Homo sapiens: one gene and its partners. The protein of the gene in region 1 purifies or fractionates together with the protein of each later gene. This does not show direct contact. Each region holds a gene or a part of one and is shown in the gene's direction. Other genes may lie near its edges. The genes, in order: PRSS16, ZNG1C, ACADSB, SERPINB7, DSG1, SERPINA12 and NEFH.

Evidence for each region.
Region 2: the proteins of PRSS16 (region 1) and ZNG1C purify together in Homo sapiens (affinity purification with mass spectrometry; one large-scale study listed by BioGRID and IntAct). This does not show direct contact.
Region 3: the proteins of PRSS16 (region 1) and ACADSB fractionate together in Homo sapiens (co-fractionation; one large-scale study listed by BioGRID). This does not show direct contact.
Region 4: the proteins of PRSS16 (region 1) and SERPINB7 purify together in Homo sapiens (affinity purification with mass spectrometry; one large-scale study listed by BioGRID and IntAct). This does not show direct contact.
Region 5: the proteins of PRSS16 (region 1) and DSG1 purify together in Homo sapiens (affinity purification with mass spectrometry; one large-scale study listed by BioGRID and IntAct). This does not show direct contact.
Region 6: the proteins of PRSS16 (region 1) and SERPINA12 purify together in Homo sapiens (affinity purification with mass spectrometry; one large-scale study listed by BioGRID and IntAct). This does not show direct contact.
Region 7: the proteins of PRSS16 (region 1) and NEFH purify together in Homo sapiens (affinity purification with mass spectrometry; one large-scale study listed by BioGRID and IntAct). This does not show direct contact.

The regions. Positions count from the first base shown.
Region 1 is NC_000006.12:27,246,105-27,250,751, forward strand, and holds the start of PRSS16 (thymus-specific serine protease), read left to right. Parts: upstream 1-1,596; 5' UTR 1,597-1,633; coding exon 1,634-1,703; intron 1,704-1,777; coding exon 1,778-1,944; intron 1,945-2,742; coding exon 2,743-2,842; intron 2,843-2,995; coding exon 2,996-3,125; intron 3,126-4,578; coding exon 4,579-4,647. UniProt on the Homo sapiens protein: Protease that may play a role in T-cell development.
Region 2 is NC_000009.12:68,240,638-68,245,123, forward strand, and holds the start of ZNG1C (zinc-regulated GTPase metalloprotein activator 1C), read left to right. Parts: upstream 1-1,345; 5' UTR 1,346-1,394; coding exon 1,395-1,548; intron 1,549-4,486.
Region 3 is NC_000010.11:123,015,278-123,019,228, forward strand, and holds part of ACADSB (short/branched chain specific acyl-CoA dehydrogenase, mitochondrial isoform 1 precursor), read left to right. Parts: intron 1-3,951. UniProt on the Homo sapiens protein: Short and branched chain specific acyl-CoA dehydrogenase that catalyzes the removal of one hydrogen from C-2 and C-3 of the fatty acyl-CoA thioester, resulting in the formation of trans-2-enoyl-CoA.
Region 4 is NC_000018.10:63,788,712-63,792,662, forward strand, and holds part of SERPINB7 (serpin B7), read left to right. Parts: intron 1-3,681; coding exon 3,682-3,732; intron 3,733-3,951. UniProt on the Homo sapiens protein: Might function as an inhibitor of Lys-specific proteases. Might influence the maturation of megakaryocytes via its action as a serpin.
Region 5 is NC_000018.10:31,352,450-31,356,400, forward strand, and holds part of DSG1 (desmoglein-1 preproprotein), read left to right. Parts: intron 1-1,450; exon of another isoform or gene 1,451-1,487; intron 1,488-1,847; coding exon 1,848-2,897; 3' UTR 2,898-3,951. UniProt on the Homo sapiens protein: Component of intercellular desmosome junctions. Involved in the interaction of plaque proteins and intermediate filaments mediating cell-cell adhesion.
Region 6 is NC_000014.9:94,495,970-94,499,469, reverse strand, and holds part of SERPINA12 (serpin A12 precursor), read left to right. Parts: intron 1-1,039; 5' UTR 1,040-1,072; coding exon 1,073-1,706; intron 1,707-2,826; coding exon 2,827-3,097; intron 3,098-3,500. UniProt on the Homo sapiens protein: Adipokine that modulates insulin action by specifically inhibiting its target protease KLK7 in white adipose tissues.
Region 7 is NC_000022.11:29,486,718-29,490,668, forward strand, and holds part of NEFH (neurofilament heavy polypeptide), read left to right. Parts: intron 1-2,131; coding exon 2,132-3,951. UniProt on the Homo sapiens protein: Neurofilaments usually contain three intermediate filament proteins: NEFL, NEFM, and NEFH which are involved in the maintenance of neuronal caliber. NEFH has an important function in mature axons that is not subserved by the two smaller NF proteins.

The DNA.
Region 1 (4,647 bases):
ATTCATTGAGAACCTTTCAAGTGCCTTGAAGTAGTTTGGGTGTTATGGGTACACCAGTGAACAAAACAGACAAAATTGCTTCCCAGAATAAGCTTACTTCCTGGGGAATGGTTTGGGAGAGAAGTGCAATAAAATGTCATCACTATCAGGGAGTGACAACAGAAGGATCAGGGGACAGGGTCTCAGGTGTTGTGCCATTTATAAGGGTGGTCAGGTAAAACCCATTTGGTAAGATAAAATATATGAATGGGGAACTATAGGAAGTGATAAAATAAGACTTGCAGATATTTGGAGGAAAAGCATCCTAAGGAGAGCAAAAATTCTAAGGAAGGAGTGAGTCTTGTGAAATATGAAATAGTCCAATGCAGTTGGAGCAGTGAACCCAGGAGGGGTAGGAGATGAAATCATGACAGTATATACAACAGGGGGCCAGGTCATACAGAGTTTTAAAAACTGTTTTCAAAACTTTAGATTTACTTTGAGTAAGATGGGGCATCAGGGAAGTGTTCTAAACCAGGGAGTGAATGATTGTGAATGATTGGGCTAATATTTAATTCTGTCTCTCTGTCTGCTGAGTGTAGAATAAATCATGAGGCAGAAACAGGGTGACCAGCTAAAAGCCTTCCATGATATCCCAAGTCAGAGATGATGGTGGCTCAGCAGTGGTAGCACTGAAGGTAGTGAGAAGTCATCAGATTCTGGATATATTTTTTAAATTTATGGGAATAACTTTTTAAATGTACAATATTTCTCATAGTGATAAGTCCCATGAAAAAGAATTAGGAATAAAGTTTGAAAAGGAATAGAAGAGGGCCATAGGTTTGGCAATTTTTAAAAAGCTGACCATGGAAGACCTTTCTGAATGAATGACCTTTGAATAAAGATCCAGTTGAAGTGAGGGAGCAAACCACGTGGGTATATAGGGAAATCACAATCCATAGGGTGGGAACAACAAGAATAAGAACCCTAAGGCAGAAGCAAGCCTGGTATGTTCAAAGAACTGTAAGGAGTCTATGGACAGTGTGAGATTGTGGGTCAGAGAAGCTCGGGACAGTGAAGCAGAGCAGAAAGTGAGGGGGCTGGAAAATAGACAAGGTGAGATTGGGGGACAAAGAGATGAGTATGGAGAGAAAGACTGAAAAAGAGATGGGGGACTGAGAAAAAAGAGACGGAAAGACTGAGTGTGGGAACAACTGAGGGGTACTGAAGATATGCTGAGGGGCAGAAAGAAAAGACTGAGAATAAGTGGGCAACTGGGGTTCCAGAGGAGGTGCTGAGGTGGGGAGAGACAGAGGTTGAAGGACAATAAGGCATGCAAAGGAGGAATCTGAGATAAAGAGAAGGTAGACCGAAGAGCGGAGAGGAGGAGACTGAGACAGCGAGGGCTACTGAGAGCTGAGGGAAGAACAGACTGAGAGGCCCAGAGAGAAGAAACTGGGAGTTCCGATGCTGCATCAGCAGCCTCTGTGTACAGACTCTGGCGTCCCTGCCCCGCTTTAGCAGTTCCTACAGACGCTTGACCTGCCAGGAAAGGAAAGAAACCTGAGCCTCTGCTGAAAGGTGATGGATTTAAGGCCCGGCTGCTGAGGATAAGATAAAGGTCCTCCTGGGGGAGAACAGAGTCCCGAACACCATGGCCGTCTGGCTTGCCCAGTGGCTGGGCCCTCTGCTCTTGGTTTCCCTCTGGGGACTCTTGGCTCCAGGTAAGAGGAGGCTGAGGGTCAAGCAGGGCATCCTAAGGGGGCCAGCCTGACTTCCTTCCCTCCATGTCCCACAGCCTCCCTTCTTAGGCGCCTGGGTGAGCACATTCAGCAGTTTCAGGAGAGCTCTGCCCAGGGCCTGGGCCTGAGCCTGGGGCCAGGTGCTGCAGCCCTCCCAAAAGTGGGGTGGCTGGAGCAACTGCTGGACCCCTTCAACGTGTCCGACAGACGATCCTTCCTACAGGTGAGGCCGGGAGACGGGGAGTCCACTAACCATCCTGCCCTCTCCTCAGTCTCCCTCATCTCTTCCTCAGTCTGCACTTTTTTCTCTCTCCACACCTCAGTTCTCCCCATCCCTCTGCTTGAATCTCATGTTATGCTTGCTGTCAGTATCCCTTTTCCTGCCCTTTGTAGATTTGGCCTTACTCTCTCCTCTCCTCGGGGTCCCACTCGTTTTGTCCCTCAGATCTTGCCCTTCACCATTTCTTTCTCTCTGTCATTCACATTCACTGCTCCTCCCTACCCCCTTGTCCCTGTCCAGACTGGACACAAAACCTACCACCAGGTCTCAGTAGGTAGCAGAAATTTGAACCAGCTTTGGAATCAGACCTAGCTCACAACAGGCACTCAAAGATATCTATCGAAAGAAGGAACAAATTCGCCATTTTTCAGTGCTTCCTCTGTATTTAGTCTCCAAATATCATCCCACTTGGATCTTATTCCTAAATCCATCTGCATTTATTTCTTATTTTACAATTATTACTTCAAGAAATAGCAAGTTCCTTCAATGTGAGAGCCACTCCCTCAGTTCTGGGGATATAAGAGTGAAAAACCAGGTCAAAAATTTGCTTTTGTATATTTTGCATTCTAGATGAGGAGATGAACAGGGGAAAAGTGAGCAAGTAAATAAACAAGCTCATTTCAGACACTGTTAAGTACATAAGGAAAGATCCATTAGGAAGAGAGACTGGAACAAATGAGGAATTGAGAATAAGTCAGGACTCTCACAGTGCCATTTCTTCTTCCCCATCCCACCTCTCAGCGTTACTGGGTGAATGACCAACATTGGGTTGGCCAGGATGGACCCATATTCCTGCATCTAGGGGGTGAGGGCAGCCTTGGGCCTGGCTCAGTGATGAGAGGTAAGAGGCAATGTTGGGGGAAAGGAGTTGGGATGCTGGTGGGGACCAGGAAGGGGAGCTGCATATTGCAATGCTGTGAGACCTGAGGAGTGAAAGGGCTTAAACTCAACTTGCATCTCACCTCCCCACCCCCCACCCATACACTCTTCACAGGCCATCCCGCAGCCTTGGCCCCAGCCTGGGGCGCCCTGGTGATAAGCCTGGAACACAGATTTTATGGCCTGAGTATACCTGCTGGAGGCCTGGAAATGGCCCAGCTCCGCTTCTTGTCCAGCCGCCTTGCGTGAGTGGAGGAAGGGAAAGTGTTTATGGTCAAAGGACAGGAATGTCTGTGCTTTGGCATCTCTGCATCTGTGTCTCTCTCCTCCACTGTCTGAAGTCAACCTCTGAGTCTCTGGTTCCCTCTGTTTTCTTCTGTGTTTCATAGGGTCTTGTTTTTTCTCTTTCCATTTCTGGGTCTCTGACTCTCCCTATCTGTCTTTCTCTTATCCTGTGTTCTTTCTATTTCTGCGTCTCTGTCTGAAGTAAGCCACTGTATCACTGTGCAGACCACCAGCATTCCTTACCTGGATTACGGCCACAGCATTCTCACCATTTTTCCTGCTCTGCCCTTGACTTCCAGGTGGAAATCAGAGTAATTCTGTTAGAGCATAAACCAGGACATGATCCTCCCTGGCTTAAGTCCCTCAGACATCTTCTGTATTGCTTCAGAAGTAAAGCAATTTTGACTGTATTTGACTTCAGAGTAAAGTCAAAGCTTTTACAGTCGCCATGGAGTCCAGTGGGTTTTGGCCTCTAGTTAACTCTGACCTATACTCTCTCACTTTCACTGGGCTCCAGCTACATTGAAGTCCTCACTGTCCTCCAGACTTACACGCACATTCCTGCCTTGAGCCTTTGAACTCATCCCTCTGCATGGCGTGGCCTTCCCCTAGATGTTTTTATGCCTCTCACCCCAGCCTCCTTCAGTGCATCTCACTCCTATTAACGACCGCCACCATTTTTCCAACTTTACTTCACCTGCTTTTTGTTTCTTTCATCTGCTTTATTCTTACAGAACTTAGCTTTTTCTTTCCTCATTGGTATCTCTGTCTGTGTCTGTAACAGTCTGTTTGCCTGTCTCATTTTCTCCGTCTCTGTATCTACATCTGTGCCTCTTTGTCTCCATCTCTGTCTCTCTGCATCTTAATCTTTTCTACAAGCGAAACGGTTTTCTAACTGCAACAGGATGGTACCAACTGCAAGCCATTCAGAAAGGTTAGGGAAGAAAGAAAGCCCTTGGGAGGAGAAAGAGGATGTTAGACATATCCAAACTTCACTCTCCATTTCTCTTTGTGTCTGTTCTCTCTCCCAATACCTTGCAACTCATCAGGTTAGGACCCCTCCTTCTCCTCTTAGTAGCCCTCCTTGAGTGCCCTCAACCCTTCCCTACATTTGTCAGGTTTTCATCTAAACTGACTTGGAAATTTTTCCTCTCCTACCTAAAACGAGAAGGGAAAGAGGGTGGTGGCTTTCTAGAAAGTGGACGAGGACAGGGTCTCCCTTGGCCTAGGCACACATGTTCTGGGAAGTGTATGTGGCTTGGAGAACACTTGGAAACACGTCATGAGAAAACGGCCCTGGTTTCTGGCCAGATTCACCCATTCATGTCTCTGGATCCGGGTTTCCCCCAGAATGGGGAAATCTTCAGGGATTCCCAGCGATGAGGACCGACCGAGTCCCCCCTTTGACCCTAGGCTGGCTGATGTGGTCTCTGCCCGCCTGGCACTTTCCCGCCTCTTTAACATCTCCTCCTCCAGCCCCTG
Region 2 (4,486 bases), on another chromosome or scaffold:
TCTCAACCTTGTTAGTAATCAAGGAAATGCAAATGAAGATCACAATGAAGTCTTCTTTTGTACTCAATTGATTGGTGAAAAATGCATGCCTGATAATATTGACATACAGACCAATGAGATCTCTTATAATTTGCTGGGAAAATGTATCAATTTGTACAAACATTTTGAAAAATAATTGTGCATTTTCTTGTGAAGTAAAACATTTGAATAATCTAGGACCCAGCAATTCAACTCTTAGACACTCAAGAGGAAGTTGCACACACATATGTCAGGAAAAATGTTCATAGCAGCCCTGTTCATAAGAGCAAAACCTGGAACAATTGAGAGGAAATGAATAAATTGCCGTGTAGCCACACAATAGAATACAAGACAGCAGTGATGCTGAAAAATATAGCAAGCCTCAGGAGTTTATATATTATATGGATAATTTTATGAAGCTCAAAAACACCCAAAATTAAACAACATATTCTCTAAGTACATACGTGGGATATGTGATAAAACTAAAAAGAAAACAGGGAAGGATCAGCAATCCAGAACCAATTCATGACTGTTGTTACTATCTTATGGGGCAGGCTGTGGATTGGAAGCGGGGGCGGTGCACATAGGTACGTGTAGCTTACTGGTAATGCTTTTATGTTAGGAATGAGGTCAAAGGAGTTCACTATAAATTTATATTAGAAAGAAGGGCTATCTATGGATTAGTGATGAGAGTGTCATGCACCAGCAAATATGATTAATGAACTTAGGTTACCTGAGGTCCAAATAAATAATGAGAAAAAAGTAAATAAAAGTGATGCATGAATACTAAAAATTTGGAATTACATATATAATATGTAATAATAAAAAAAGAAAAAATTGTCACTGGTTATCCTTCAGGTATAAAAATTACAATTAAAATTGTAATGTTATAACCTTCCATTCTTTCCCCTATGAATTAAAACTTTTTTTTTTAACGAGACTAAAAAATCAAGTTGATAAAATCTATGCCCTGTGGGAACTGGTTAGGTCAGGCTACCCACTCCAGATTTCCAGCAGGCTGGCCTCAGCTCTACCTACAGCCAGTAGCTTATTAAGGCTCTAGGCGCCAGTGACACCTTCAGACAGGTGGTTAGTGCGCCCTAAGGACTCTCCGCAGCGTCGCTCAGGTTCACAGAACACGCCCAGGGGCGTGTCCAGCTGTCGTCGGGGAGAGCCCACCTCCCCGGGGGGTGTGGCTAAGGGACGAGGCAGTTCTCGTCCAGAGCCCAGGTAATCCGGGCGGGATCAGCTAGCGTCGCGATGTGATGACGTCAGGCCCCGGCCAGGCCGGGAGTGGCGTGCTGGGCGTGCGCGGCTGCGGTACGGCGTGTTGGTCCCAGCGGTTCAGCTGAGGTAGGGACGTGCTGTAGGCCGGAATGTTACCGGCTGTTGGATCTGTGGATGAGGAAGAGGATCCTGCGGAGGAGGATTGTCCTGAATTGGTTCCCATTGAGACGACGCAAAGCGAGGAGGAGGAAAAGTCTGGCCTCGGCGCCAAGATCCCAGTCACAATTATCACCGGGTATTTAGGTAACTAACCATCCCAGTCACAAAATGCCGTGAACTCTGGTGTCATGGGATTTTGCGGGCTGCCGGTGCCTCTTCTCCTGAGGCATTGGGGCCTCATGATCAAGAGCAAATGTCTTTGAGGTAGGGGCTGGGTCACTTGCTTCTCGTATGGGTTACCTCTCATCTTGGGAGTTAATGATGCCCGGTCCCCTCTGCGTTAGATTCCCATTTCTCAAGTGAGATGGAAAGTTAGCCTTTGAAACAAGGCTTTGAAGCTAAGACACGCCCCCCTAATTGTCTCTGTGACCTCTTACCAAGTTATCTTACCTTCCTGACGCTCATCTACCTCACCTGAAAATGGAAAAATACCTGTCACCTGTGAAATAGGGCCGGAACAACCTACCTATTGCCATTAAAGGATGTCCCGTCTGTAAAATGCCCGACACGTGGGGCTTTCGTCAGCAGATTCCCCTTCCCCAGGAGCCAAAGTCCTCCAGCCAGTTGGCAGGAAGTGCTCCTATCTTAAACACTTTTCTTTTGAGGTCTGTTTGTAAACCACTGCGTAGGAAGTAAGAATAAAATCTCTGTCCTCCAAGACTATTTCTCAAACTAAGAACGTTTAGAGTGTACAGGGATACTCGAAACCACAAGTTTGTGAACTTGGTAGTTTCGTGAAGGGCGGTTTATGCACTTACACTAGAAGTTTCTTACTGGAAAAGTTTGAGAAATATATTTTTAAACCTTACAGTTAAATAGAAGGGCTAGAACAAATATATGACTGTATTAGAAGTTTGGAAAAAGTTAAGAAATGTAAATAAAATAATACTGTTTCCGGGAAATAATATTCCTAGTTGTTGCTAGAGACAGGTACAGACTTGGGCCACTTCGTGACCTTTTATGTAAAAATAAGAAATAACTGCTTTTGTTTTTTTAAAAACTTTGTAGACTGTAAGTTTATTCCCGTTTTTTGCTCGGAAGTAATTTTATAAAGGAATTTATTTTTGGCGTTTCCCCACAGTTATTCAGAGGCTGCTCTACTGAGAAGATGAACAAATTTCTTGTCCAAAACAATGTATTTCAAACGTGCCCCTCGGGCCTTTCCCGTGTTGCTCACTGGTAGGTCAGTAGATCATTGGAGAAAATGATCTGAAGCTCAGGAGTGAGAATTAATACCAGCAACCTTGTTGCTGAATCTAGGGATAGTTTCACTCCTATCCCTGACCATTTTCCCTTTTTGAAACACTGTTCCTTTGGCTTCTATTACATTTTTCTTCTGATTTTTCCACCTGCTTCTCTGGCTTCTTTTTAAGGCTCCCTCCTCCTTCCCCCTTTGTCCATCTTTAGCTACACACCTGTGTAATTTCTATTTTGATGTCCTACAACTTAAAACTTAACATGTCTGAAACTTCGTCTGTTACCATCCCCCCAAATCCTGCTTCTGTGATCCCAACCATTTGGAATACTCTAAAAGCCTCCTGACTAATCTGGAGTCTTGCTGCCCTTTAATTTATTCGTTGCATGTTAGCCTTAATGATCTTTATAAATGTCAATCCGACTGCGTCACACCTTTCAGTGGCGTCCCTATGGGTTAAAATTCAAATTCCTTAACATGAATTACAAGGACCTGTAGGATCTGGATCTTGCCAACCTTTCCAGCCTGCCAAATTGGCCCCGCACAATAAACTAAGGTTACTTCAAAGGTGCCAAGTGTTTTAGCCCCTTGGAATAGGTACTTTTTTACTGTGACTCCTCTGGCTAGATGTCCCTCTTAGGTTCTCCATAGCATTTTGTGCATCTCCTATTGAATATGTCACCCTGTGACATAATTGCCTCCTTATTCACTGAATTCCCCTCCATTCCCCCCTTCCCTTAATATTTCTAAGCTCTATGAAGGCAGAGACTATCTTGTTCACTTTTTCACCAAGGCCCAGCATAAATCTGTAACGTATTAGAAACCTTTGAATGAATGAACTATGTCTTAAAGTGTTTTTTTTTTTCATAATATGGTTAAAAAGCCCTAGTAAATCTTCTCTTAGAAGATTTCTTACATTCACCCTTTCCTTTCAGTTTTCACATCACTGCCCTGTGAAACACTCATGTTCAGGGCCTCTGTCTCAGGCTTGGACTGGTTTTAAGATCTTCCTCATTGCCCTAAGTCTCTCTCTTCCATACTATACTTCATATTTTTGTGATGTTGAGCTTCCTAAAGTACTCTAAATATAAGCCTTCATCTCTTAAAAAGCTTTGAAAGGAATATGACCTAAAAGATATTAATACCCTAATACTCCGTAAAATCTTCCTAGTTGTAGGAAGATCTAGTTATATACTAGAAAACTTTATTTCAGAAGACATGTATAGCCTACATGTAAAAGTTTTTAGCAGCACTGTAATAGTAAAACACTGGAAACAAACCAAATGTCCAACAAAAAAAAAGATAAAGAAATGATATAGTCATACAATTGAACTACAATACTATGCAGTTAGGATTTTCTTTTTTTCCTCTATGAATTTTAGTGTGTACGGTTCACAAGACTTTTTTTTCTACTGGAGATTGACATATTGGGTTTCATATGCCACCTGCTGGATAAAGTTGGTATAGCTTTATGAATTTATCTTAACTGAACATTCTGTTCATTGTTGACACTACCTGGCTCTATTCCCCATTTCATAAAAACTTTTATAGATTGTTTAAAGCATACTATAAGTAGCCATATAGTCAGCCTGAAGTTGCGTCTCGTTAATGTTGAAATAAAAGGTCACTATAAATAAAAGATTGTGTGTCAATTTTAGGGAAGGTTAGGCTAGGTTGAAGAAACTGTTTCAACTTGTAGGAGTGTTTGTAAATATTTATAAAATTTTATGTCTACATAAAGTATTTTGCAACAGGTTTCAAAGGATGCTTTAATCTTATCCTCTAGGATATTCTATACTAAAATAATATATGAAAAATAGCATGCAA
Region 3 (3,951 bases), on another chromosome or scaffold:
GGCAACCATCAAAGAGTCTTTCTCCTTTCTCTCGGGATCCTCACACACTTGCCCTGTCTTGGGCCTACATTGTCGTTTTTGTTGTTGTTGTTCCTCATGCCACCTTGTCTAAGAAGGCCCACATTATCTTGACTCATTCTCTGTAAGGGCTAGACCAGGTTTTCTGTGTTTTGTAGGATGCTAAGCAGTATCCCTGGCCTCTACTCATAAGAGGCCAATAGCTTGCCTGAGCTATGACAACCCAAAATGTCTCCATCCATGGCCAAATGTCCCGTGGGGGCAAAATTACTGGACTGAGAACCACGGATGTAGACCTGTGTAACAGTGTACTCCATGAAGGAGGGGAAAGGTGGCCTTTCTCCTTATAACCTGGTAGGGAACTTTCTCTCTAAAACTATTTGCCATACTCAGTTTGTTGGCTATAGAAATTGATCTACAGTTTCAAAGATTTTTGTTGAAAGATTTCAATAGCAGCCATTGAGATTTTAAGGTGCTGTTTGCAAAGGAGTTTACAAGATAAAACAGTCAGCAGCTCACAAAAGGAACTCATCACGTGAGACTCTGAAGCCACATCCCACTTAGACCATTTCACAAGTCCACTTTTAGAGTAACAAGGCCCTCAATGAGGGTGATAGCACCGATGATCAGAAAGGAAGACATGTTAATAAAAGAAGACTTGAGAAGATGTGGGAATTATCTTGAAATGGAGGAATTAGATGGACTACACATTTTCTAAATGAAATAGCTTAGTGATAGGCAAAGATTGGGACATCTGGAGAAAAAGTAATTTAGGGTGACAGAAGAAAGGTAATTCTGTTTTAGACACGTTTTAGGTATTAATAAAACTTACAACTGAAAGTGTCTTAGAAGCTGGTCAGAAATGGGTCTAGAAAGTGGACCAGTGCTAAAGCTATGGTAAAAGGAAAACTTCATCTGAATTAAATTTAAAGGAGTTTAATTGAGCAGCAAATTGGGCAGCCCCCAGAACCACAGCAGATTTGGAGAGACTCCAGGGATGCCTTGTGGTCATAACAAATTTATAGACAAATGAAGGGAAGTGACAAATCGGAAGTGAGGTACACAGTGGCTGGATTGGTTACAGATTTGCAATTGTCTTATTTGAACACAGTTAGAACACTCAGCAGTCCATGAGTGGTTGAAGGATGGCTGCTGGGATTGCCCAAGACGCAGCTACTGTTACAGGCGCATACTCCTAAGTTAGGCTTTCAATCTTGTCTACCTATTAAGCTAGGTTACAGTTCATCCACAAGGACTCAAATATAGACATACGGAGTCCTTCTCAGGCAATATTTAGTTTGCTTTAAGAGCTATAAATGCTAGCCAAAACCATAAATGGGTATGGGGCATCGGAAGGATAGTGAAGAAACAGGAGTGGACAAGTCAGCCTTTGGGGTACAGTTCAGACCATCCTGGGTAAATGTTGAGAAGCAAAGAAGCAAAAGGAGACTTAGTAGGATATCAGAGGAAATTCTGTGACATATGTGTTTTATTCAGAATTGGAGCAAAAGAAGGAAAAGGATATTTAAAAGCAAACATACAGAATTTGTGTCACATAAAAAAAACAAACCTGTGAGAGCAGAAGCGGTGTGTTTTGAGAAGTGCAAGACATGGCAGGGCCAGCTAATGGAGCTGGTGGAATGCATACTGAGGAGGTTGTGAACGTGGTTCATGCTCCCTTCACTCAATTTGGTAACCCCCTGTCCCCAGCCAGTGTTGAATATGCAACCCCTGATATGGAACTCTGGTCTTTTGGCATCTATTTAAGTGTTTCTTCTGACTATCTTCCCTGAAAAAGAGGGTGAGTTGAAGAAATTCCCAATGCCTGTTAAGTTGTTGGACCCAAGTAATTATGTGATTAAAAAAAAATTTAAACTCCATAATAGTCCTATCTTTTAAAATTTCTTTGAAAATAGAAGTGAGTGTCTTGTTTCATTTTTGTCCACTGGTAATTTGGGAAAGAGAAATTGTTGACTTGGCTAAGGTCACAATAAAGGCAAGCCCAACTCCTTTACCTTATATTTATTTATTTATTTTTTTGAGACAGAGTTTCATTCTTGTTGCCTAGGCTGGAGTGCAATGCGTGATCTCAGCTCACTGCAACCTCCTCTTCCCGGGTTCAAGTGATTCTCCTGCCTCAGCCTCCCAAGCAGCTGGGATTATAGGCACCTACCACCATGCCCGGCTAATTTTTGTATTTTTAGTAGAGACAGGATTTTACCATCTTGGTCAGGCTGGTCTGGAACTCCTGACCTCACGTGATCCATCCACCTAGGCCTCCCTAAGTGCTGGGATTACAGGTGTGAGCCACCTCACCGGGTGGACACAGTTTCTAATGGCCGGCATTTGCATGTCTAAGCTTGCTGTCCCAGCTTGAAGAGCCGGGCTTTCCTGCTAGACAAGAAACGTTCCTGGAGCTGCTTTAAAAGAAACAAAAACTTCCCAAGGACACCTTTTCCTCTCTATAGGCCTAAAATAATTTTTTAATAACTCCCATAATGAAAGTCGGGGGTGGCTTCCAGGCTATAGGTAAATTTAAACATTTTCTGGTTGACAATTGGTTGAGTTGGGCTAAAAACCTGGGGTGAATAGAAAGGAATGTCTGGGTTGTGATAAGAAGTTGTAGAGACCAAAGTTTAATCATGCAGATGAAGCCTCCAGGTAGCCGACTTCAGAGAGAATGGATTGAAATGCTTCTTATTAGGCCTAAAGTTCTGTGTTGATGTTCATGCTGGTGAGGTATAATGAGGTATGTTCGACCCCCACTTCCCATCATGGCCTGAAACAGTCTCTCAGGTGAAATTTTAAGACCCCTGGCTAGGGAGGAAGTCTGTTCAGCTGGTTTGGGGGGCCTTAGAATCTTATTTTTGGTTTACACATGATTAAAAAATACTTTAGCTCCATAATAATCCTATCTTTTAAAATTTCTTTGAAAATAGAAGTGAGTGTCTGGTTTCATTTTTGTCCACTGGTAATTTGGGAAAGAGAAATTGTTGACTTGGCCAAGGTCACACTACAGGCAAACCCATTTCCTTTGTGTTGATTCCCTTGCCTTGTGTCTTGTCTTGGCTTATTTAACCCTCTTTTGAGGGAATCACTATAATTCTTAAAAGGGCAAGGCATTGTTAGGAACTCCTAAAGACTAGAATGAAGAATCAGAGACTGGTAGATGGGAAAGGTTGCGTTTTTAGCAGTTTTGGAGAATACCTAGAACAGAAGCTATTATTTATGGAGAAAGCAAGCAGAGGTTGGACAGATTCTGGTATAGAAGTTTTGGCTTGGGGATATAAAATTGGGATCAACTTAAAATCTAATCCATTGGTACACTGCTAATAAAGGCATACCCAAGACTGGGTAATTTATAAAGAAAAAGAGATTTAATGGATTCGCAGTTCCACGTGGCTGACGAGGCCCCACAATTGTGGTGAGGAAGGTGAGGGAGGAGCAAAGGCACGTCTTACATAGCAGCAGGCAAGAGAGAAGTGCAGGGGAACTGCCCTTTATAAAACGATCAGATCTTGTGAGACTTATTCACTATCACGAGAACAACACAGGAACAACCCGCCCCCATGATTCAGTTACCTCCCACTGGGTCCCTCCCATGACACATGGGGATTATGGGAGCTACAATTCAAGATGAGATTTGGGTGGGGACACAGCCAAACCATATCAAGCAGGTATGAACAATTTGGCTTAGGAAATCAAAATCAAAACTGAATATAGTGTTAAGTATTTTTTCATTAAATTCTAATAAATTGTTGACACAATTCTCATAAGCCGTATCAATTCCTGTAATTTTAAAGCCCATAAAGTAGTTTAATTTTCCTTTGGGGGTGGTGAGAGAATTTGTTTAAACTTCATTTCAGATAATTGTAGATTCTTATGCAGTTATAAAAAGAAATACAGATAGATCCTGCATCTTGTTATCTGATT
Region 4 (3,951 bases), on another chromosome or scaffold:
GTTTTACCAGTTTTCATCTTTCATACAGTTTTTTACTATACCTTTTCTATTCTTAGATGTATTTAATACACAGATATTTACCATTGTGTTACAACTACCTACAGTCTTCAGTACAGTAACATGCTATACAGGTTTGTATTTGGGAGCAATAGGCTATACCATGTAGCCAAGTTGTATAGTAGGCCATACCATCTAGGTTTGCATGAGTACACACTGTAACATTCACACAATGACAAAATCACCTAACCATACATTTCTCAGAAAGAATCCGTGTAGTTAAGTGATGCATGATTGTAATAAGTAGAAGGTTTAAAACTTTGAAGAGCAGACATCAGTCAAATTATATTTTATAACTTATATTTATATAAATGTACATAGCCATTTATATTTTTCTCAAGACATTATGTCATAATCAAATATGACTTCCAATATGTTCTCAGCCTTTACTGGTTAAACTTTCCTCCTTGAACTGTTTCAAAGATTAGCGAGCTGGTCCCATCAACTCCTGACCCCTCATTTTAGGAAAGAAGGATACAAAGGGACCACCTAAGTTCAAGCTGGCCACTGCTCATCTCTCTCTCCATCTTATACTGAGATGATGGACAGTAATGACTTTCATTTGAAACTTTTCATTTTGGGAGCCCTGAGAGACAAACTTCATCTATTTTCTGACATAGGATGAAACAATTATAATGATGTAGTCCAAAGTATAAAGATACATGCTTTTATTTCCTTTCTTATAGTAGTCCAAATAAATAATTCCATGGAGTGGAAGGTCCCTGTTGAACCTCCCTTTCCTAGTAACAAGTGACCAACTCCACTGTTCGCCACTGCTCACCAATGAAGTCGCAGCTGCAATAAAATTGACTAAAAAACTGAGGGAGGATTAAGGATACAGAGTACCCAGTATATTCTCTCTCTGAATTCTTTCTCTCAATTGGGAAGAGATAACTGCCATATTTTTAAAGGTATTGAAAATCCACATTGGCCAAGAGCTTATTCTATTTTCAAGTAGAGATGTTGCAAAGATGCAAGATTCTCAAAATATAGTGAAAGGTTGAAAATTAAAAGACTTATGCTTTCATCATCTTTTCTTTATCATAACATGCATAAATGTTCTTATAGACTGATATGACAGGTCCTTCAGTACCATATGCTCACAGTGACAGTTTATCTAAAGACTAAGAAAGCTCTTCTATAAATCAAATGCTGATGTTCCCAGGCTGTTGAACCAGAATTGTTCAAGGGTCTCTGTCACTCAGTCACTGCAGGTTCTAGTTCAAAATTTTGGATTTTGAATTTTTCCATAGGTGAAAACATGCCATGCATAGTCACTATTGAAATAAAAATCACTTGCAAATAATTAGGTGATAAAAACTACAACTTAATAACAGCAATGACTTCTTGAGCTTTATTGTAAGTATGGACGTTTCTAAACTGAAAAATATTAAGCTTTCCAGTTTTATTATATTATGAATTTAACAAATTTTTCTTTAAACTAAGCCCACTTAATATAAAAATCCCCAAATTAAACACATTTTAAATTTTATAAACCTCCGTAAAATAATTTTGAATTAAAGGAGCAGAGGGGGCAAGTGCTGAAAAGTTCTCTTCTTTTGTCAGAAGCCACCATGGTGAGGTTGATGACAACAATGATGGTGGGATTAGTTAAAAACAGTCAGCTTTGGGGAGGAAGCATTTAATCACTGTTATTCTGTATATACACTGCTATGAGAAAAATCCTCTATCAGACTAATATGGTCAAAATTATGCCTGATACACAAAATATAGTTTTTAAATTTGGTTGGTACAAATGATTTCCTTAACTCAATTTGTATAGTGCCTCCTTTGTGTGAGACAATGTGTAGTTATAAACAATAAGAAAGAAATATAAGGGATAATATCGAATATTAGAGATAGTACAAATTCTAATTATGAGTTTGTATTCTCGATAAGCTGAAAGTTAGGGGAAGCTCCACATGTTGAAAACACTGTAAAACATGGGGTAGGGAGGGAAGGGGAGAAAGAAAGAGTTTTAAGTGTTCATATGGATTTGACCCAGCCATCCCATTACTGGATATATACCCAAAGGATTATAAATCATTCTACTATAAAGACGCATGCACACGTATGTTTATTGCAGCACTATTCACAATAGCAAAGACTTGGAACCAACCCAAATGCCCAGCAATGATAGACTGGATAAAGAAAATGTGGCACATATGCACTATGGAATACTATACAGCCATAAAAAGGATGAGTTCATGTCCTTTGCAGGGACATGGATGAAGCTGGAAACCATCATTCTCAGCAAACTAACACAGGAACAGAAAACCAAGCACTGCATATTCTCACTCTTAAGTGGGAGTTGAACAATGAGAACATATGGACACAGGGAGGGGTACATCATAAACCAGGGCCTGTCAGTGGGTTGGGGAGGCTAGGGAAGGGATAGCATTAGGAGAAATACCTAATGTAGATGATGGGTTGATGGGTGCAGCAAACCACCATGGCATGTGTATACCTATGTAAAAAACCTGCACATTCTACATATGTATCCCAGAACTTAAAGAATAATAAAAATAAATAAATATTTTTTAAAAATGGTGATGACATAGAGTTTTAGAGCCTATTTAAGTAAAACAGTGCTTTTTTGCATAAAATGACATTTCAAGAAATTTAGGAATAATCATTGGTGGGAAATGTTGATAGGTTCCATGATTCCAAAATTACAAAAAATAACAGGAAAATCTGGTAGGTAAAACTTAACAAATATTAAATTAACACATGAATTGATGACCTAATTTGTATTGGCCCAAATGTTAAAATTATAGCTGCCCAGTCACTTCAGAAAGAGGCTTATTCATTCCATAAATCACAAAATAGTCCACAGGTATTTTTATTTTTATTTTTTTTTGAGATGGCGTCTCACTCTGTTGCCCAGGCTGGAGTGCAGTGGTGCTATCTCGGCTCACTGCAAGCTCTACCTCCTGGGTTCACGCCATTCTCCTGCCTCAGCCTCCCGAGTAGCTGGGACTATAGGCGCCCACCACCACAACCAGCTAATTTTTTGTATTTTTAGTAGAGACGGGTTTTCACCGTGTTAGCCAGGATGGTCTCGATCTCCTGACCTCGTGATCTGCCCGCCTTGGCCTCCCAAAGTGCTGAGATTACAGGCCTGAGCCACCGCACCCGGCCAGTCCACAGGTATTCTGAGTTACATCATTGTATAGTGAAGAAGGTGGTCACATTTCACTGACTATATTGAAAACTGTAGAGTTCCGCTGCTGAAATATGCTTTTCATTCAGTGTCAGACTGGGAGAGCTGTGCACTGAGGCATTAATATCCGTGTGTGGACTGACTACCAGACAAGCATGATTTAATTGGAAGCGATATCACCATAGCATTTATGTAAATTGGCACAAATTCCAAAATCCTAGTAAACCTAAGAGAAAATCAAGTTGTGGTAAAGAAAGAAAATGCAATAAAAATTAAAACCAAGTATGCCTGTTGATGTGCATTCAGAGTCATGGGGAGAATCTGCTCTAAGATACTAATGAACTTGGAATGGCAATTAGACACATTTATTGGGAAAGAATATTTTTATTTTTAAAACCTCTTGCAAACTGTTCTCGTAACCTCTGATTCTAATGATTGCTTTCCTTGTGCCCTGTTTACAGTTGCTTCATGTTAACACTGCCTCAGGATATGGAAACTCTTCTAATAGTCAGGTAAAGACAATATGTTCTTTTAGAAAAAGAGAAGGTGAGCCAGGTGCAGGGGCTCAAGCCTGTAATACCAGAACTTTGGAAGGCTGAGGCGGGTGGATGACTGGAGCCCAGGAGTTCAAGACCAGCCTGGGCAACATGGCAAAACCCCATCTCTGCAAAATATACAAAAATTAGTTTATAATCCCAGCTACTTGGGGGGCTATGGTGGGAGGTTAGCTT
Region 5 (3,951 bases), on another chromosome or scaffold:
GGAGTTGCTCTTCTCGAGGAGTATCTTTGTGGCATTCTCTGTATTTTCTGAATCTGAACGTTGGCCTGCCTTGCTAGATTGGGGAAGTTCTCCTGGATAATATCCTACAGAGTGTTTTCCAACTTGGTTCCATTCTCCCCATCACTTTTAGGTACACCAATCAGACGTAGATTTGGTCTTTTCACATAGTCCCATATTTCTTGGAGGCTTTGCTCATTTCTTTTTATTCTTTTTTCTCTAAACTTCCCTTCTCGCTTCATTTCATTCATTTCATCTTCCATTGCTGATACCCTTTCTTCCGGTTGATCACATCAGCTCCTGAGGCTTCTGCATTCTTCACGTAGTTCTCGAGCCTTGGTTTTCAGCTCCATCAGCTCCTTTAAGCACTTCTCTGTATTGGTTATTCTTGTTATACATTCTTCTAAATTTTTTTCAAAGTTTTCAACTTCTTTGCCTTTGGTTTGAATGTCCTCCCATAGCTCAGAGTAATTTGATCGTCTGAAGCCTTCTTCTCTCAGCTTGTCAAAGTCATTCTCCATCCAGCTTTGTTCCGTTGCTGGTGAGGAACTGCGTTCCTTTGGAGGAGGAGAGGTGCTCTGCTTTTTAGAGTTTCCAGTTTTTCTGTTCTGTTTTTTCCCCATCTTTGTGGTTTTATCTACTTTTGGTCTTTGATGATGGTGATGTACAGATGGGTTTTTGGTGTGGATGTCCTTTCTGTTTGTTAGTTTTCCTTCTAACAGAGAGGACCCTCAGCTGCAGGTCTGTTGGAGTACCCTGCCGTGTGAGGTGTCAGTGTGCCCCTGCTGGGGGGTGCCTCCCAGTTAGGCTGCTCGGGGGTCAGGGGTCAGGGACCCACTTGAGGAGGCAGTCTGCCCGTTCTCAGTTCTCCAGCTGCGTGCTGGGAGAACCACTGCTCTCTTCAAAGCTGTCAGACAGGGACATTTAAGTCTGCAGAGGTTACTGCTGTCTTTTTGTTTGTCTGTGCCCTGCCCCCAGAGGTGGAGCCTACAGAGGCAGGCAGGCCTCCTTGAGCTGTGGTGGGCTCCACCCAGTTCGAGCTTCCTGTCTGCTTTGTTTACCTAATCAAGCCTGGGCAATGGCGGGCGCCCCTCCCCCAGCCTCACTGCCGCTTTGCAGTTTGATCTCAGACTGCTGTGCTAGCAATCAGCGAGACTCCGTGGGCGTAGGACCCTCCGAGCCAGGTGCAGGATATAATCTCGTGGTGCGCCGTTTTTTAAGCCCGTCGGAAAAGCGCAGTATTCGGGTGGGAGTGACCCGATTTTCCAGGTGCCGTCCGTCACCCCTTTCTTTGACTCAGAAAGGGAACTCCCTGACCCCTTGCGCTTCCCAAGTGAGGCAATGCCTCGCCCTGCTTCGGCTCGCGCACAGTGGACGCACCCACTGACCTGCACCCACTGTCTGGCACTCCCTAGTGAGATGAACCCGGTACCTCAGATGGAAATGCAGAAATCACCCGTCTTCTGCGTCGCTCACGCTGGGAGCTGTAGACCAGAGCTGTTCCTATTCGGCCATCTTGGCTCCTCCTCGAAACCAATTCATGTGATTTTTTTGTGTATGGTTTTATGTCCAAAGTACACAATTATAAATAAGTCCATCTAAGTAAATTTTTAAAATCATAGTATTAGAATTATACTTAAAATGATTTCTAACCAAATTATTTCAAATAATTATAAAATGATTTTTAGAGCATCTCTAGTATGTTAAAATCTTGTTTTATTTCATTCCTCTTTGGAAATGCTCTGGAAGAAAAACTAATGATAAAGGCTGTTCTATTATTGTTAAATATGCATTCATAATTTCATTTTCTCTTTCTCCTATAAATTCAGAAAGCATATGCTTACGCAGATGAAGATGAAGGACGCCCATCTAATGACTGTTTGCTCATATATGACATCGAAGGTGTAGGTTCCCCTGCTGGCTCTGTGGGTTGTTGTAGCTTCATTGGAGAAGACCTGGATGACAGCTTCTTGGATACCCTGGGACCTAAATTTAAGAAGTTGGCAGACATCAGCCTAGGAAAAGAATCATATCCAGACCTTGATCCTTCTTGGCCACCACAAAGCACTGAACCAGTTTGCCTTCCTCAGGAAACAGAGCCCGTTGTTAGTGGACACCCACCAATCTCCCCACATTTCGGCACTACCACAGTAATTTCTGAGAGCACCTATCCCTCGGGACCTGGTGTACTGCATCCTAAGCCTATTCTCGATCCTCTGGGCTATGGTAATGTCACTGTGACCGAGTCTTACACCACCTCTGACACTCTGAAGCCCTCTGTGCACGTTCACGATAACCGACCAGCATCAAACGTGGTAGTGACAGAGAGAGTGGTCGGCCCAATCTCTGGCGCTGATTTGCATGGAATGTTAGAGATGCCTGACTTGCGAGATGGGTCGAATGTTATAGTGACAGAAAGGGTAATAGCACCAAGCTCTAGTCTACCCACCTCTCTGACTATCCATCATCCTAGAGAGTCTTCAAATGTGGTAGTGACAGAAAGAGTAATCCAACCAACTTCCGGCATGATAGGTAGTCTGAGTATGCACCCCGAGTTAGCCAATGCCCACAATGTCATTGTGACAGAGAGGGTTGTTTCTGGTGCTGGCGTAACTGGAATTAGTGGCACCACTGGGATCAGCGGTGGCATAGGCAGCAGTGGCCTGGTTGGCACCAGCATGGGTGCTGGGAGCGGTGCCCTGAGTGGAGCTGGCATAAGTGGTGGTGGCATTGGCCTGAGCAGCTTGGGAGGGACAGCCAGCATTGGCCACATGAGGAGTTCCTCTGACCATCACTTTAACCAAACCATTGGGTCCGCCTCCCCTAGCACAGCTCGAAGTCGAATCACAAAGTATAGTACCGTGCAATATAGCAAGTAGTCAGGACCCCAGCTCACTTTTTCATAGTCATTGTGGTTTAGATCCAATTCCCACCACTAAAAAACCAACAATGTGATTTATAACGCACAACTTCGTGCTCAGGTCATCTAGGAGCAAGGTGAGAAATCACAATGAGAAAAATAAATGGAAACACCACTGCTAGGGGAGAGCTCTCCTTAGCATTCATAAACTTTTCTCTTATATTAGGACTAAGGAACTAAAACTTGAGGCAGAGTCTTCTTTGTGCCTGAGTGGCCTGTAGTCCATCTCCAGCATGTAACTGGCCTTACGATGGCAATTGGCATCATTCTCCTTGCTCTGTTTTGCTTTTCCATATAGCTCGAGCAAAATTCAAAAAGAACTAAATATGCAATATATGTTCATATCTATGGGAAAAATCTAAAATGTGTGCCAGATGCCCTGTTGGTTTCACAGATAACATAAATAAAAATTCAACCACAGATTTATACAAGGGTTAACCATTTTTTTTAAGTTTGACTACATAGTCAAGTCCACAAGCCATCAAGCACTCCTACCTTAATTATTGCACTAGAGAAAATAAATTCCAAATTAGGAAGTGTTTCCTAGGAGGAAAATTCCATTAGAGAGTGGCAATAGGATGAGGTTTCTTCAGGGTAAACTAGCAATGCCTGAGCCTGAACCTTAATGTGGGGCCTCAGTTAAATCTCCTGTGGAGTCAAGGATTCTTCTGATTCTAGTGTGTGTTTAGTGATAGATGTAGTCTTGACGAATATTGCTTACTGGTGAGGTTGAGGAATATCACACTCGTCTTTCCCTTTACCACTGTGGTTTTGACTTAAGAAAGCAAAACTCACTAAGTTTACTTCTCGAATTGAAGCAAGTGAGGCCTGACATGGTTGTCATCACTAGTGGCAAATGACCTTCCAAGTAAGCAGATGGGAACTGAATTGTGTTTTCAGGTTTTGTTTTTAGTAGGTGATATTCATTCGTATCCAGCTCTTTATTACATAGCTCTGAAGTTAAAATGATTTACATAGGCCGAGCTGTGGACAAAAAAAAAAGAAGCAGCAGC
Region 6 (3,500 bases), on another chromosome or scaffold:
AAATCAATAAGCTTTTTAGGCCAACATGCTTTTAGCATCTCTCTGCAGAATTAGGGCTGGAGATTAAGGGAAAACGTAGCTAAAAGTCTTGTCTCCCAGAAGCTCACAGTGGCCGTTGGAAGATGTCAAAGCTGAGAGGTGGATGAAAGGAGCAGCAGTCCAGAGCCAGGCAGACCTGGCTGTTCCTCTCCCATGGTGCCATCCTCTTCCCTCCCTGGGAAGGGTGTAGGGAAGAAGGTTTCCTGGAGATCTAAGTCCTCCTGGAATGAGTATCCACCACCTAGAGAACATATGAGCTTAAACAAAGAGCTTGATCTCTGTAAATTAGTCATAATTCTTTTGGCTGAAGGGGAAAAATTTACCTCAAACCAGCCAACTCTAAAAGGGAAATTTATTGGCTTTCATAACTTGGAAACATGGAAGTGGGTAGCAAACTGAGTTAAAGGTTAGTCCAGGGTCTCCAAAGATGTCATCAGATGTGTCAGTCCATTTCTGTCTTTCCACCTCCCTCTATCACTCTCCTCTCCTTCTACATGTGGAAACCATGGCCACATTCAGCTCCAGGGCTACTTCACAAAGCTAGCTGCCCCAAAGCTTAGGGGGTTTTGCATTCCCTTAGAAAGACACTGAGAGGTCTGATTTTGGTCCACACTCTCATCTTTAACCAGCCAGTGTGGCAAAGGAATGAAGTATTATGATGGTAGGTCTGGGCCATATGCCTACACTACGGGGTATCCTCACTGTGGTCCAATGGAGGGAAGGAGAGCTGTTCCTCAAAGGAATTGAGACACTGTTTCCATAAAGAGGGTACAAAAACAAGAGTTGTCTTCTACATTCAGTCCTCCTATTTACAAAGTGTAGAAGTCATTTCTAGTCCCCAGGGTGATTATAAAGTTTAAATGCTATAAAGGGGTCAAAGCACTCATAAACTGCTATGTACAACACATAATAGTCACTGTATTTCTTCTTTCATCTGGTCTTCCTCTGGGTAACATGTAGGCAATGGGGTTATCATGTTCTTTTTTTCTGCTGACCTCAGGTCTACTACTCAACAGGATATTCTTCAAGGAAAATGAACCCCACACTAGGCCTGGCCATTTTTCTGGCTGTTCTCCTCACGGTGAAAGGTCTTCTAAAGCCGAGCTTCTCACCAAGGAATTATAAAGCTTTGAGCGAGGTCCAAGGATGGAAGCAAAGGATGGCAGCCAAGGAGCTTGCAAGGCAGAACATGGACTTAGGCTTTAAGCTGCTCAAGAAGCTGGCCTTTTACAACCCTGGCAGGAACATCTTCCTATCCCCCTTGAGCATCTCTACAGCTTTCTCCATGCTGTGCCTGGGTGCCCAGGACAGCACCCTGGACGAGATCAAGCAGGGGTTCAACTTCAGAAAGATGCCAGAAAAAGATCTTCATGAGGGCTTCCATTACATCATCCACGAGCTGACCCAGAAGACCCAGGACCTCAAACTGAGCATTGGGAACACGCTGTTCATTGACCAGAGGCTGCAGCCACAGCGTAAGTTTTTGGAAGATGCCAAGAACTTTTACAGTGCCGAAACCATCCTTACCAACTTTCAGAATTTGGAAATGGCTCAGAAGCAGATCAATGACTTTATCAGTCAAAAAACCCATGGGAAAATTAACAACCTGATCGAGAATATAGACCCCGGCACTGTGATGCTTCTTGCAAATTATATTTTCTTTCGAGGTAAGGCTTTTGGCATGTTGGTGTGGAAAGAATAGGATGACCACTAGACTTGGGTTAAAAACCTGGGTTGGCCACTTGTTTACTCTGTGACCTTGAATTCATATGTGATTTATCTCTCAAAACCTCACTTTTCCTATCTGTAAAATGGTTACCATGATACATAACTCATACAGTTATTGAGATTTAAAGTGAAAATGTATGTGAAATGAGCTTTATGAAGTCTATCATTTTCATTATTGGTGATTATCCTAACACAACATTGGTTATAGAGGTTGGAATGACATTTTGTTCCCATCACTTAGATGAGAAAAAAAAATCAGAGTGAGATTAACTGACTTACTCCAAGTTACAAAGCCCATCATTGACAGTCAGGACTGGAACACATTTCTCCTGGCCCTAGCACTGTGTGCTTTCCAGCACTTTAAGCAGACACCTGAGATGGTGATTGTGTTGATTATGGTGATGGTGATCACTTGGTGGGTCTCCTTATGTATGTATTATATAAATTCTCCTTATCAGACTTTATATATTTCCCAGATCTGATGGAGAGAGACAGAAAAAAAAGATGGAAGAATGTTTCCAATTTCAACTTTATCCCCCAACACCACACAGAACACATGTACACAAACAGGTTGGCCAAAATAGGTGAGAATCAGAGGCCAACACCCATCAGTCCAGACAAAATCACTGCTGGAGTGTCAGGAACATGGTACTAAATATAAAAAATTGAGGGTTCTCAAAATCCACAGGCAGATTGATGGCTAAAGAAGAGTCTACTCACATCAGACTCAATTAGCCCTCATTAATTGTAATGCAGTCCCCTCTGTTAGGACATAATCAGTGGGCTTTCTCAGGCTTAGGGGAACCTGAGCTTATGGTAGTCTTCTTTTCCCCTCTTAATTTGGCAGTCTAGTCCTGGCTTCTTTGGGAACTAATAATTGCACCTGAGCCCATATCATCAGAAATCTCCAGGACATGGCATGAGGGCAAGGACTTCCCTGATATCCCGGAATATCCCCTTTCACCCTGAATCTGTGTGGAGAGAGACTACTGGTTAGTTGGATTTAGTCACCTTTTTTCCCTTGGGATAACATGTCTGTTTGTCTTTCTTCAATCTAAGCCAGGTGGAAACATGAGTTTGATCCAAATGTAACTAAAGAGGAAGATTTCTTTCTGGAGAAAAACAGTTCAGTCAAGGTGCCCATGATGTTCCGTAGTGGCATATACCAAGTTGGCTATGACGATAAGCTCTCTTGCACCATCCTGGAAATACCCTACCAGAAAAATATCACAGCCATCTTCATCCTTCCTGATGAGGGCAAGCTGAAGCACTTGGAGAAGGGATTGCAGGTGGACACTTTCTCCAGATGGAAAACATTACTGTCACGCAGGTAAAGTGGGTGCCTAGCCCTCGCAGCTTTTTCCTTCTCTTGTCTTCCCTCTTATTTCTGCTGTCTGAGCTCTTACCTCATGGCCAAGTCCTCTTCTGGGCTCTATAATAAACTTATATCATGGTGAGAATTAGACTGGGGAACAAATCATAGGAATAGAGTGAAGTGCCTGGCTCTTTGAGGGAGATTCATCAAGACTGTGAGGGCGCAGTAGATGGAGTCTTACTGGAGGGCGGTGGTCAGGGAGGACTTCATAGAGGAGATAGCATTTGAGCCAAGTCTTCAAGGGTGAGTGGCAGTCTGTATGAAAGGGTGAGGAGCAAAGGAAACTGCAAGGACAAACACGGGCTGTAAAAGAGAGCTGTGAGTTGTGAGTAGAATGATGTTGTCAACTGTGGTGTCA
Region 7 (3,951 bases), on another chromosome or scaffold:
TCGCTATGTTGGCCAGGCTGGTCTCGAACTCCTGACCTCAGGTGATCCGCCTACCTCGGCCTCCCAAAGTGCTGGGATTACAGGCGTGAGCCACTGTGCCCAGCCAATGAGTCTTGAGAGTGACTTACTTTCATTCTGAAATGATTTAGACGGTGGAAGTTCCTTATCCCCTCCCCAGATCCAGCCAGCCAGAGGCCTGCTTTGAAGGGAAAAGAGGTGCTTGAGTCAGGGACCTTTCAAACTCTGTCCTTTAGAGTTTCTTAGCTCTGCAAGCATTCATTTCTTGGGGATATAAAGTGGAGATGATAATAAGGGCAACCATGTCATAGGGTTGTCAGGAAGATGAGCTAATCCCATTCCCAAGCTAATCCAGGAAGCACAGGTACCACTGGGCTGCTACAGAGGGAACCCTTAGTCAGTGGCAGCCTTGAGAAATCCAGTCTGAGGAATAAGACCGGGGGGAGCAGGGCTAGGGAGCAGGACTGATTCCCTGAGGACTTGTCCCAGTTCTGACTGGTGACCTGTGGCTTCCTACCTCTTGGCTCTCGTCTGTAATCTTGCTACTCAAAGCATGGCACATGAACCAGCAGAATTGGCATCATTCAAGAGCTTATCAGAAAGATAGTCTCTTGGTTGGGTGTAGTGACTCATGCCTGTAATCCCAGCACTTTGGGAGACCAAGGCAGACAGATTGTTTCAGTTCAGAGACCAAGCTGGGCAGCATGGCAAAACCCCATCTCTACAAAAAATACAAAAAAAAAAAAAATAGCTGGGCATGGTGGCACATGCCTTTAGTCTCAGCTACTCAGGAGGCTGACGTGGGAGGATCACCTGAGCCTGGGAGTTGGAGGCTTCAGTGAGCTATGATCGTGCCACTGCACTCCAGCCTGTCATCACAGAGTGAGACACTGTCTCAAAAATAACAACAACACAACAACAACAAAAGACAGACGCTCAGCCCCTCCCCAGACCTGCTGAATCAGAATCTGCATTTTGATAAGATCCCCGGTCATCTGTGTGCTGCTAAATTTGGGAAGTACTAGTCTGAGGGGTAACCCCCACACTTACTCTGAGACAAGCATTCTGCCAAGTCTTTTCCATTCATTGTCTCACTGAAACAACCCTCTGACGTAGGGACTCTAATGACCCTCTTTTTCCAGTGAGGAAATTGAGGCTCAAAGAGTTGGTGTGTCTTGGCCAAGGTCACCCATCTAGTGAGGAGCAAAGCCAAGAGGAGAAACTGCGGCCTCTACCCTATTCCTGAAACTCAAAAGATGGTAATACAGGGTGATGAGAGACACTCGCGATTCAAATGGGAGCGTTCTAAGACCTCTTAAACCCAAATTTATAAAAGTAGAATTGTGGTCGGGTGCGGTGGCTCACACCTGTAATCCCAGCACTTTGGGAGGCCTAGGCGGGTGGATCGGCTGAGGTCAGGAGTTCGAGACCAGCCTGACCAATATGGTGAAACCCCCGTCTCTACTAAAAATACAAAAATTAACTGGACGTGGTGGCGTGCGCCTGTACTCCCAGCTACTCAGTAGGCTGAGACAGGAGAATTGCTTGAAGCTGGGGGAATTGCTTGAATCTGGGAGGCAGAGGTTGCAGTGAACTGAGATTGTACCACTGGACTCCAGCCTAGGTGACAGAGCAAGACTCCGTCTCAAAAAAAGGAAAAAAAAAAGTGGAATTGTTTGCTCAGGCTCCCAGGGTTCTCTTGAATAATATTTTAGTTTGAGGGACAATAAATTTAACTTTTGTTAAATTTATTTAGGAGCTTTCTCTTGAGGGCCATTTTTTATGGGGCAAAAGTTGTTTTATTTCAAAAGTTTCAGGCTTAGCTGTGTTGAAGAAGACCAGCTGTTCCAGCCTGGGCAACACAGTGAGACCCTCTCAAAAACAACAACATCAACAAAAAAAGACCAGTCCCACCGGGGTACACATTCTGGGTGGTCACTGGAATGATTTGCCAAGTGACTTTCTCTAGTCTCATAATGCCCACCATTCACATTCCTGTTCCACCAAAACCCATATCATTCGATGTCAGTGACCTTCAGGATAGTCTAGGAAGAACCCAAATAGTGAATTTGCCCTGAGTTTATACTAATGTGTTCCGTGATCCATCCTGCAGAAAACTCCTGGAAGGTGAAGAGTGTCGGATTGGCTTTGGCCCAATTCCTTTCTCGCTTCCAGAAGGACTCCCCAAAATTCCCTCTGTGTCCACTCACATAAAGGTGAAAAGCGAAGAGAAGATCAAAGTGGTGGAGAAGTCTGAGAAAGAAACTGTGATTGTGGAGGAACAGACAGAGGAGACCCAAGTGACTGAAGAAGTGACTGAAGAAGAGGAGAAAGAGGCCAAAGAGGAGGAGGGCAAGGAGGAAGAAGGGGGTGAAGAAGAGGAGGCAGAAGGGGGAGAAGAAGAAACAAAGTCTCCCCCAGCAGAAGAGGCTGCATCCCCAGAGAAGGAAGCCAAGTCACCAGTAAAGGAAGAGGCAAAGTCACCGGCTGAGGCCAAGTCCCCAGAGAAGGAGGAAGCAAAATCCCCAGCCGAAGTCAAGTCCCCTGAGAAGGCCAAGTCTCCAGCAAAGGAAGAGGCAAAGTCACCGCCTGAGGCCAAGTCCCCAGAGAAGGAGGAAGCAAAATCTCCAGCTGAGGTCAAGTCCCCCGAGAAGGCCAAGTCCCCAGCAAAGGAAGAGGCAAAGTCACCGGCTGAGGCCAAGTCTCCAGAGAAGGCCAAGTCCCCAGTGAAGGAAGAAGCAAAGTCACCGGCTGAGGCCAAGTCCCCAGTGAAGGAAGAAGCAAAATCTCCAGCTGAGGTCAAGTCCCCGGAAAAGGCCAAGTCTCCAACGAAGGAGGAAGCAAAGTCCCCTGAGAAGGCCAAGTCCCCAGAGAAGGAAGAGGCCAAGTCCCCTGAGAAGGCCAAGTCCCCAGTGAAGGCAGAAGCAAAGTCCCCTGAGAAGGCCAAGTCCCCAGTGAAGGCAGAAGCAAAGTCCCCTGAGAAGGCCAAGTCCCCAGTGAAGGAAGAAGCAAAGTCCCCTGAGAAGGCCAAGTCCCCAGTGAAGGAAGAAGCAAAGTCCCCTGAGAAGGCCAAGTCCCCAGTGAAGGAAGAAGCAAAGACCCCCGAGAAGGCCAAGTCCCCAGTGAAGGAAGAAGCTAAGTCCCCAGAGAAGGCCAAGTCCCCAGAGAAGGCCAAGACTCTTGATGTGAAGTCTCCAGAAGCCAAGACTCCAGCGAAGGAGGAAGCAAGGTCCCCTGCAGACAAATTCCCTGAAAAGGCCAAAAGCCCTGTCAAGGAGGAGGTCAAGTCCCCAGAGAAGGCGAAATCTCCCCTGAAGGAGGATGCCAAGGCCCCTGAGAAGGAGATCCCAAAAAAGGAAGAGGTGAAGTCCCCAGTGAAGGAGGAGGAGAAGCCCCAGGAGGTGAAAGTCAAAGAGCCCCCAAAGAAGGCAGAGGAAGAGAAAGCCCCTGCCACACCAAAAACAGAGGAGAAGAAGGACAGCAAGAAAGAGGAGGCACCCAAGAAGGAGGCTCCAAAGCCCAAGGTGGAGGAGAAGAAGGAACCTGCTGTCGAAAAGCCCAAAGAATCCAAAGTTGAAGCCAAGAAGGAAGAGGCTGAAGATAAGAAAAAAGTCCCCACCCCAGAGAAGGAGGCTCCTGCCAAGGTGGAGGTGAAGGAAGACGCTAAACCCAAAGAAAAGACAGAGGTAGCCAAGAAGGAACCAGATGATGCCAAGGCCAAGGAACCCAGCAAACCAGCAGAGAAGAAGGAGGCAGCACCGGAGAAAAAAGACACCAAGGAGGAGAAGGCCAAGAAGCCTGAGGAGAAACCCAAGACAGAGGCCAAAGCCAAGGAAGATGACAAGACCCTCTCAAAAGAGCCTAGCAAGCCTAAGGCAGAAAAGGCTGAAAAATCCTCCAGCACAGACCAAAAAGACAGCAAGCCTCCAGAGA